2 separate regions of the Homo sapiens genome follow, and region 2 is linked to region 1. The links come from fine-mapping of genetic effects on gene expression. A gene starts in region 1. The other region holds a variant in brackets. All regions are shown on one strand. Distances are between the middles of the regions.

The links. PIP is the estimated chance that this variant, and not a neighbour inherited with it, causes the effect.
Region 2: its variant is the best candidate, but not a certain one, in a credible set for the expression of CYB561A3 in whole blood (INTERVAL, PIP 0.83).

The regions. Positions count from the first base shown.
Region 1 is chr11:61,359,270-61,364,642 of GRCh38, reverse strand. CYB561A3 (cytochrome b561 family member A3) reads left to right here and starts at 2,761. Exons shown (of 7, transcript NM_153611.6): 1 at 2,761-2,910. It overlaps TMEM138 (transmembrane protein 138), which reads right to left and starts at 2,269. Exons shown (of 5, transcript NM_016464.5): 1 at 2,223-2,269; 2 at 125-391. The coding sequence starts at 252. RefSeq lists enhancers at 2,251-2,740, 2,151-2,872, 2,991-3,210.
Region 2 is chr11:61,414,331-61,419,703 of GRCh38, reverse strand. It overlaps CPSF7 (cleavage and polyadenylation specific factor 7), which reads left to right. Exons shown (of 10, transcript NM_001142565.3): 6 at 3,185-3,599; 7 at 3,920-4,038. Among named protein-coding and RNA genes, the nearest start is that of CPSF7, 13 kb to the left of the region's middle. The variant A/C (reference allele first, on the strand shown) is at 2,949.

The DNA.
Region 1 (5,373 bases):
TCCTGGGATTATGGGTGTGAGCCACCGTACCCAGCCTACTAATAACTTTAAGACACTAAATCACCACTGTCAGGGCCTTTGAATTGCGTGGGTTCAGCTTTCCAGAGTGCCTTACTGCACGCACATGAAGAGCACAAGCTGGATGACAGGAGTCTTTTGGAGCAGTTCTGAGAAGGAATTGACAAAGAGGTCATAGGACAGCAGCAGGAACTGCAGAGAGAGCACCAGGCTGTAGTTACTGGTCTGGAGCATCTTCCTTCTGTTTTCTCGGGCCCCCAAGGGCACATCCCACAGTTCCCAGAAAACCGCTCCTGGCTGTCTCCCTACCACTGAGGGAGAGGCTTCTAGTTCCTTTGAATGAGAGCTGTTTCCCTTGCTCTAAGGCAAGCACCTGTTGGAGCAAAAAGATAAGCAAGGTTAGAAATGTATTAATACCATAAACATTTACTGAGGACCTACTGTGTGCCAGGTACCACTCCAGTTGCATGGGATACTTTAGTGAACAAAACCAACAACAAAAACCCCCAAGAAGTCATTTATTCTAGGACCTTCACCAGCTTTTCTCCATGCCTGGAATCTTCTCAATGCAGAGCTGTCTCTAACCAAAGGAATCTAGTAGTATTACTGAGAAGAATGACTGCCTGGTCATGTAGTAGCGGTGGTAACAAAAATGGCAGCAAATCCTTATACATTGCTTACAATGTGCCAGGGAGTGTTCTACAAGCACTAACATTATTTAAACCTCACAAGGTAGATGACATAATACATTATTACCTTCCCCATTTTACAGATGAGAAATTTGAGGCCAAGAGAGGTAAAATAATTTGTCCAAGGTCACGTCGTTAGTAAGTGGCAGAGCTAGTATTCAGATGCAGGCTGCACGGGTCCACAGTCTGTGCTCTTAACTACTGGACTAAGCTGTCTCTTACATAATTGATAGACTAGTATTTAACTAGGCAGGAAAAATGCCAGCAAAGAAGTGTGAAGTGCCCTAGGCAGAAAAAGCAGAGAGGAAACAGGGGTCTCCTGGAAAGCTTTATCTTTAGGGTTATGGTTGCAACACAGTGGCAGTTGTTTCTTTTCATCTATTCCAAGACCCACAAGTTGCTCTGGGGGTGTCCTATGACCCGCTGCTGTGCCAAATCTATAAAGAAATTTCAAAATGCTCTGGAGTGTTAGCGATTAAATTAGCATCGGTAAAATGTTTTGCAATTTATAAGCTCTTTTCATATTTCTAACCTTACGTAATCCTACAACCATCTTGAGAAGTAGCCATTACAATGTATATTATCCCCATTTTACACAGAGGCTCCGGAAGGTTAAGGCACCTCCTCCACCTCAGCTGGTGAAGTCCCACCTTATTGGACATATGTTCGCGGTTTCCTCATTCATTAAATTTTAGAGAGAGAGAGAGTGTCTCGCTCTGTCGCCAGGCTGGAGTGCAGTGGCATGATCTTGGCTCACTGCAACCTCCGCCTCTCGGGTTCAAGCGATTCTCCTGCCTCAGCCTCCCAAGTAGCTGGGACTACAGGTGCGTGCCACCACGCCTGGCTAATTTTTTGTATTTTTAGTAGAGACGGGGTTTCACCATGTTAGCCAGGATGGTCTCGATCTCCTGACCTCGTGATCCTCCCGCCTCGGCCTCCCAAAGTGCTGGGATTACAGGCGTGAGCCACTGCGCCCGGCCGCATTAAATAACACTGATAGCTACTACCTAGGTACTCACACCACGATAAACTTGTCAACCAAGATCGTTTCCTTTAATCCTCCCTACAAGTCTGCAAGGTGGGAATTATTCCTATTCTACAGGAAAGGACACAGAAGTCAGAGCTCAAGGCATTCCTCCAGGTCTCAAGTCAGCAGAACCCGGCTTCATAACTGTGACGCCAAACCCGTGCTCTTAACCACTACTCATAGGCCACCATCCAGGGCTGTTTTGAGGATCCGTTATGCAGAAACGCCCATGCCTGTCTCTACGTACGACGATCCCCTCCAGTTTAGGGCAGTGGAGACTCACAAGCTCATGAAGCTCTTTAATTCGTCCACCGCTACCTGCCGCCTTCCCTTTGTACCTAGGGCAGTATTCCTCACGCTTCCCAATCCACTTAAAAACGAGGCTTCCTTGGCAAACAACAACAAAGCATAAAACCCAAGCCCAAAACAACAGCACCAAAAATTCTGACTTCTGGTCACTTAACCCACTCCTCGTCAATCACTCTCACCTCCAAACTCCAACGTCGGTTGTCATGCGGACATCGTCCCGGCTTCCGGAAGCCGGCTTTAAATTCCGGAAGTAAATGGAGGAGGCGGGCCCCGTCTGCGCCGTGCGGCCTGCTAGTCCCCGGCTTTCTCTTCCCGCTCTATGGCCAGTCTGGCCGCCATGTTGGAGCTTTCGCTGTTCGGGGCCCGGCCTGCTCCGGGCCCTCCCAGCGTCGCCGCTAGCTGACTTAGGGCTCCCGCCCACACTGCGCACGGCCTTGCTGAGGGCCGGCTCGTAGTGGGAGGCTTCGCGTTCACCTGAACATTTCCGCCTCCTCTGGATGGGGGATGAGAGGCGGGGCTGATGCATCGCAGCAGTCCTGGACCCTGACTTCGGACTTGGAGAAGAAACGCCGAGGAGGAACGGGAGTTAGGGGGTTAGCAGCTTGGCGCGCTGGGAGCCGGCCACCCCTGGTCTCCGGACTTCACTTCCCAGGAGGCCTCGCGCGCGACTGGAAGTGCTGCGAGCCTATAAGAAGGCGAGGCGGCACCCGCCGCTCTGCTCTGGGGCGGCATTGCCAGCCGGCTGTAGGCATTCAGGGCAGTGTCTTCTGCATCTCCTAGGAACCTCGGGAGCGGCAGCTCCGGCGCCTGGTAGCGAGAGGCGGGTTCCGGAGATCCCGGCCTCACTTCGTCCCACTGTGGTTAGGGGTGAGAAGGATCCCGGGGCTGGGAGTTCAGGGACCTGGGTTCGAATGCTGGTTCCGCTGCTATCTCGCTTCGCACTGTCGCGATCCCCTTGCTCGGCCTCAATTTTCTCTTTTAGAAAGTGGGCACCTTTCTCCGCGCTCTTCCTTCCAACGCGGTGGTTATAAAGGCACGAAAGCTCTTCAGAGGACGCAGAAAGCACCTGGAGCTCCTCACCCCAATTTTCACCCATTGTTAGCTGGCACGAGCACCCAGCAGAGGAGTCAGGGATCACCCCTCGGGTGCCTGGAACGGTTCTTTGGACACCTGAGCCGGACCTAGGCACAGCCTGAAGTCGGGGTCTATAATTATTCCGGTGCTAAGGGGTAACTTGTTCACCTACCTCCTTGGCAGGAATATTGAGCCCTTCACTCCTCATGTTCCGACTTTAACAGAAGCTACCTTTGAGAATAAGGAATCCTCAGAGCTGAGAGGGAGTGGACCCGAATTCCTGTACCAGCTCGGCCACTTACCTTGGCTAAGTCATTTTCTTGTTTTGGGCCCCAGTGTCACAGTGTTTTTGATTTGTAAGATGAGGGTTTAGGGCTTGTATCCTAAATCTGGTCCTCAAGATTCTTGAAGTCCCCCAGTCCATCGGGGAGGGAGAGCAACAAACTGATTTTCTACCCCTTCATTTATTTGTAGTTCTAAATTATAAAAGTAACACTGCAAGAGTTTGGAGTAGAGCCTTTTTCTTTTTCTTTCTTTTTTTTTTTTCTGAGACAGAGTCTCACTCTGTCGCCCAGGCTGGAATGCAGTGGCACGATCTCGGCTCACTGCAACCTCCGCCTCCCGGGTTCAAGCGATTCCCCTGCCTCAGCCTCCCAAGTAGCTGGGATTACAGGCGCCCGCTACCGCGCCCGGCTAATTTTTGTATTTTTAGTAGAGACGGGGTTTCTCCATGTTGGTCAGGCTGGTCTCGAACTCCTGACCTCATGTGATCCGCCCGCCTCGGCTTCCCAAAGTGCTGGGATTACAGGCGTGAGCTACCGCGCCCAGCCTGCGTAGAGCCTTTTTCTAAGACTAAGGGCTGGATGGGAACTAGCATTTCTTACCCCTGGATGTGACCTGTTTTAGCTCAGCCGGGAGAATCCTTTTTCGCAAGAAGTTAATAATATCTTGTGACGTGAAAATTATGTGAAACTCAGACTTCAGTGTCCATAAATAAATATTACTGGAACACAGCCGTGGTGCTCATTTGTTAAGATGTTTATGTGGCTGCTCTTGCATGGGCAGAGTTGATGACATAGTTGTGACAGACCATGTGCTCTACAAAGCCTAGAATATTTACTACCTGGACCTTTACAGAAGAGCTTGCTGACTGCTCCCTTAGAATGGGGCTCTGCAAAGTGAGCACACCCTGGGATCACAGCCCAGCCTGCCCTTAGAACAAATGAGAGGATATTTTCAAGCATTTGCATTGCAGTTTTCACGGTTTTTTTGTTTTGTTTTGTTTTTGAGACAGAGTCTAGCTCTGTCGCCCAGGCTAGAGTGCAGTGGTGCGATCTCGGCTCACTTCAGCCTTCTCCTGGGCTCAAGCCATCCTCCCACCTCAGCCTCCTGAGTAGCTGAGACTACAGGTGGATGCCATCACGCCCAGCTAATTTTTTTTTTTTTTTAAGAGATGAGGGCTCACTGTTGCTCAGGCTGGTCTGGAACTCCTGGGTATTTATTTATAGACAGAGTCTATCTCTGTTGCACAGGCTGCAGTGCAGTGGCGTGATCTTGGCTCACTGCAACCTCTGCCTCCTGGGTTCAAGCAATTCTCGTGCCTCAGCTTCCCGAGTACCTTGGACTACAAGCGCATGCCACCGTGCCTGGCTAATTTTTGTATTTTTAGTAGAGACGGGATTTTGCCATGTTGGCCAGGCTGGTCTCGAACCCCTGACTTCAGGTAACCCACCTGCCTGGGCCTCCCAAAGTGCTGGGATTACAGGCATGAATCACTGTGCTGGTCCTTCACTGCATTCTTCCTTTTCTCCTGCTTTGCTCTATTTCAGGAAGTAGGAGGGCTTATCTGTGTATTGTGAGCAGGGCAATATAACTTTGCAGCTCTCTGTCAGGAAAGTGTGCCCAGGGTCTATTCTAAGTCTGTCACAGAGCAGTAAACCAGGACCTTTTCTAGGGTGTGGCTACAGATCCTTTCGGACTGCATTTACTTTTTCCTCTTACAAAGAAAAAAAAAACAGTTGTGGAAGTAGATATTGTCAGATGAGTGAGCCTGCTGATCAAGATCTCTTACATTTCACTGAGGGATGGAGAGTGTTTTAGGTGAATATCTGGTGATCTGAAACGTCCTCTGCCCTTGGAGGAATTGAGGAGGCAGTTCTGAGGCTGGGTAGCAAATCTCTGAGTTAAGTAGTTGAGTCACAAATCTTCTAGGAGGCTGGTGGCATGATTTTCTCCTGCCAGCTTCATGGAAGCTTT
Region 2 (5,373 bases), 55 kb before region 1:
CGTGTGACCTTGGCCAAGTCACTTTACTACTTAGGGCCTGTTTCCCCATCTGGACTAGTGACATGATGTTTAAAGTTCCATCACCTCTAAATTCTGTGTTTCTGTCTAAAACTTGGCATTAGGTGAATGGGCTTAATTTTTAAGACATGCCTCTCTATAAATTATCAAGAAGCAGCCACCCTAAAATGTAACTAAAAGGTGCCTATAATCTTTTCATAAACGTTGATTGGAAGGATACTGTAAGGAATCAACCAAGAGGAGTGTTGGAGAATAAGACTTGAACAATATTTCTCCAGCATTGTCCAGGGGAGAGGGTGCTCTTTTGATTACCAAATGTTTTAGTCTGCTTGGCAGTTATATCCCATTAGTAAAGAAAGTTACAGGCCGGGCGCGGTGGCTCACGCCTATAATCCCAGCACTTTGAGAGGCCGAGGTGGGTGGATCACGAGGTCAAGAGTTTGAGACCAGCCTGGCCAACATGGTGAAACCCCATCTCTACTAAGAATACAAAAATTAGCCGGGTGTGGGTGACACATGCCTGTAATCCCAGCTACACGGGAGACTGAGGCAGGAGAATTGCTTGACCCCGGGAGACGGAGGTTGCTGTGAGCTGAGATCAGACCACTGCACTCCAGCCTGGGCAACAGAGCAAGACTCCATCTTGGAGGGAAAATAAAAAAGTTAGGGGCTGGGCATGGTGGCTCACACCTGTAATCCCAGTGCTTTGGAAGGCTGAGGCGGGCAGATACCTGAGGTCAGGAGTTCGAGACCAGCCTGGGCAACATGGCAAAACCCTGTCTTTACTAAAAATACAAAACTTAACCAGTTATGGTGGCACATGCTTATAATCTCAGCTACTCGGGAGTCTGAGGCAGGTGAATCTCTTGAATCCAGGAGGTGGAGGTTGCAGTGACCTGAGATTGCACCACTGCCTTCCAGCCTGGGTGACAGAGTGAGACTCTGTCTCAAAAAAAAAAAAGAAAAAAGAAAGTTACCTCAGAACTACCTTAGTTTGAGGACAGTTTCCCCAATGTCCATCTTACTCTCTTTATTCTGACTGTACTCACTAAGCCACTTTCTGATGCTAATTTGGTTTCCCAATTAGGGTCTCCTACTAGGAAGAGAATTCGCTGACCAGCCGACACAAGTATTCTGGTCTGCTTGGCAATTACATTTCTCATTGTAAATTAATAAATTGGTGTTATGGTTTATGAATCAGTCTCTTGTGAGTTTGGTTAGCATGAATCAGTCTCCTAGGGCCTAGTCACCCCAGTTGAAGCAAGTTTCTGAACCTGAGAAACCTGAGGACTAGACCTTGGATTTTCCTGACCTCATAAAGTGCAGCCACCCTGCAAGACCTTCCCTGAGACAGCCAACCACCCTTATTTTCTTTTGCTACAGTGGGAGGAACAGCAAAGTTTCATCACTGATGTTCTGTCACTGCTTAGGTCCAGCTCTCAAAATAGTGCCTTGTATTGATTGGGTGTATCCTCCAGGTAGAAATAGGACCACTTTGCTCTTGCATAGGAACAGCTGTTCTTTTAACTAGATTGACAGCCTAGATAGATTTGGTGTGAACTCTTGTTGTTCCATGTTAGAAAGGACACACTCTTCTTCCTTGACAAGTTGTATTTTCAAGTCCCCTCTGTTTTGGAGTCTTTCTGTAATTCACCCCTGACTTTCCTTAGGTATGTAATTTTACAACTGTATTGGGGGTAACGTTCTACTTCTACTCAGCTACTTTTCATGTTACTTTTTTTTGCTGAAAAGATTGTGTAACTGAGTGCTGTTTTTCTGCTCTGTCATGCTGATGGACCTGGGCTCTGTTAATTCACTAAGTAAAGCTGGTGGACTTCCTCTGCATAGAAATGTTGCGTCTTTTGGGACTTGTAGCCATAGATACAAAACAACCTTTGCAGATGTGACAACAGTAGTAGCTGGGAAAGTGGTTAACTGTCAGATGACACTTGCCTTATACCTTTTTGTTCTTCAGTTTGAGAGAACTCTAGGAAAGAGCCAGTTGCCATGTGTTTGAGACCTGAAGAACAAGACAGCACTGGCACTGTTCTGTAAGAGAAATCTAGGTGGTTGTCAACATAATTGATTCCACCTTAGGCTTTACTCAGGAGCTGGGATTAACTATCATATTCTAGTTTAAGGAGCACTCTTTCCTCCACACTTGCTGCCAGTGGCATCTTTCTATCTCCAAGACCCCCCCAAAGCCATGTGATCTTGTTCTTCTATTGGATTCCACAATAAACAGGCTTAGACTGTTAAACTGGAGAGAAGGAACAAGTTTAACCAAGTGACTTGACAATGTCAGAATCCATGCTTCCAGCTGTTTAAAACATGTTCTGAGCTCCTGTTGTGCACAGCACCATACTAGCATGTGGTGATGGTGTTCCTGTTAGGCTGCCCTGAAGGGTAGAGGATTTTGGCCATTGAAATGTAGCGGGAGTTCCCCAGATTGGAGACATGTTTTGTAGCAAGCTTTTGCTAAGCATCCTTACTGTCAGCTGTGTGCTATCTGCTTGTGCTGTGGGCGGATCTTTTATTGGCGTATCTCCCAATTTTTCTTATCTTTCACTTAACCTCCAGTTGTCTAGTCTTCATGTGTGTCTCTTTCTCACCCTGATTACTAGTTTTAGTATGTAAATAGAAGTGCCATCCAGTTCCTGCCACTCCCTCTCTTCCCTTAAATTCCCTAGCCAACACCCTGTGGCAAAGAGAACATTTTAAGTGTGCAACAGGAAGAGGTTAACTAGTATTAGTTTAAGGAGAGAGGTCCTGAACTCTTCAGGAGATGTGGGGTTTCAAGTCAACTGCAATTCACCTGAACATCAGTGAACACTGTCATTTTCTCGTGGGCTATCAGGATCCTTCTACATTTAAAAATAGAAGATACATATAAGGATAAATTAAATCTGTTCTGAAGCACTTCTGGAGTT[A/C]TGGATGGAAAACATTCTTTGACAGGATTTAGGACGATATTGTTTTTTGGATTTAATGTCTTCACTGAGTTGCTTCTGACCTCTGAAGCCAAAAAAAAGGCAGTAGATGATTTTACCTTCTCAGCCTCTTTAGTCACCTTCCTTTGTAGGGTGTCTGATAACTTCTGAAGGATGAACTGGTCCTGTGGGTTTGTGTAAAGCCTGGGCAGTAACATCAGTTCTGTTTTGCTTCATAGGAATACCTCCACGGGCCCATTCCCGAGATTCTAGTGATTCTGCTGATGGACGGGCCACACCCTCTGAGAACCTTGTACCCTCATCTGCTCGTGTGGATAAGCCCCCCAGTGTGCTGCCCTACTTCAATCGTCCTCCTTCGGCCCTTCCCCTGATGGGTCTGCCCCCACCACCAATTCCACCCCCACCACCTCTCTCCTCAAGCTTTGGGGTCCCTCCTCCTCCTCCTGGTATCCACTACCAGCATCTCATGCCCCCACCTCCTCGATTACCTCCTCATCTTGCTGTACCTCCCCCTGGGGCCATCCCACCTGCCCTTCACCTCAATCCAGCCTTCTTCCCCCCACCAAACGCTACAGTGGGGCCTCCACCAGATACTTACATGAAGGCCTCTGCCCCCTATAACCACCATGGCAGGTAAGGACTATTGTTCCTTTCAGATTTGAGCCAGGGTAAATAAGTGTATTAAGCATTTTATTCTCCCTGAGAAAGTGAGCACTGAATCCTTGTTCTTTCCCTTATAGACATTCTGTTATCATAGCATTGACTCCTGGGAAGTAGTACCATGTCCTTTATACCCCTTTTTAAGGTGCTTAATTAAATGCGGGAGCAGGTGTTATGAATGCTACAGATGTCTAGCATTGTTCTGTGTTATGCCAAAATTACCAAAGTGTTGTAGAGTACAGTAAAAATAATAAGGGATGTGAGCAATCAAGGATGGTATTTTCTCTGTACAGCCGAGATTCGGGCCCTCCACCCTCTACAGTGAGTGAAGCCGAATTTGAAGATATCATGAAGCGAAACAGAGCAATTTCCAGCAGTGCCATTTCCAAAGCAGTATCTGGAGCCAGTGCAGGTAACTCAGTGCTTACCTTTGCTGCCTTCTCCTTAACCTTTACTTTTTTTTCCTGATTTTGTCATTTCTACTGGCAAAAGTTCAACAAGATAAAGTTGGAGTACTGTAGATATCAAGAGCGGCATACTTTGAAGAGCAATATGTAACCTGATTTCTTGGCCTTGGGGAAGCTCCGGCAGTATTACTTAGTCTGTATCTAGGCCTGCCCTCATGAAAACCAACTTAATGCCTAGAATATAAATAATTAATACCATCTCGATGTGGTGTTTGCTGTAGAGTGAAATTCCTGCCTTGTGGAAATCTCCATCTCAGTGGTTGATCTTTAGATCTAGTGTCTGTGTAGTAGACCCAATACCAGATATAGACCCTGGGTCTTCTTTAGGAATGATGTTTTGACTGGATAATGTGTTTTTTTGTTTGTTTGTTTTGAGAGGGAGTCTTGCCCTGTCGCCCAGGCTGGAGTGCAGTGGTGCAATCTTGGCTCACTACAGCCTCCACCTCCTGGTTTCAAGCGATTCTCCTGCCTCAGCCTCCCAAGTAGCTGGGATTACAGGCACTTGCCACCACGCCCGGCTAATTTTTGTATTTTTTTGTAGAGACAGGGTTTCATCATATTGGCCAGGATGGTCTTGAACTCCTGACCACAAGTGATCCGCCTGTCTCGGCCTCCCAAAGTGCTAGGATTACAGGTGTGAGCCACCACGTCCAGCCTAGATAATGGTTTGCTATGAAATCTGATTACATTTAGGAGTCTAAGCAGAGCTGGTAGGTAGCCTATCCTAAAAAGAGGCAAGTCTGTAGATGTCATCTTAAGGCATGTTATGCCCTTACAGCTAACTTTTGCCCTGCTCTCATTATTAAGTGGGTAGAACCAGCAGCCATGATTCTGAAAGCCCTGAGCATAAGATCTTTAGTTTCTAAAAGAAGAGGCTACAGGAAGTTTCAGAGTTCTGGTCCGGTTTTCACATCGTGACATTAGCCATATTCACTTCCTTCCTGTGAGTTTCCTACATGAATGTAAATGTCTGTAGATTATCAGATCTCCTAAGAAATAAGTTAGCCCTAAATATTATCATCTGCTTTCCATCAGTTTTCATCTTTGCATCATCTTGCCAAACTTGAATCCACAGAGAAGGTTAAAGACAGAAAGTACATATGTTCCCTTCATTTTTTTCCCACCAGAAAAATCTACATTGACATCTAAATTAGTCTTTTTTAGGCCAGGTGCAGTGGCTCATGCCTGTAGTCCCAGCACTTTGGGAGGCCAAGGCCGGTAAATCACTTGAGGTCAGGAGTTTGAGACCAGCATGGCAAAACCCCATCTCTACTAATAAT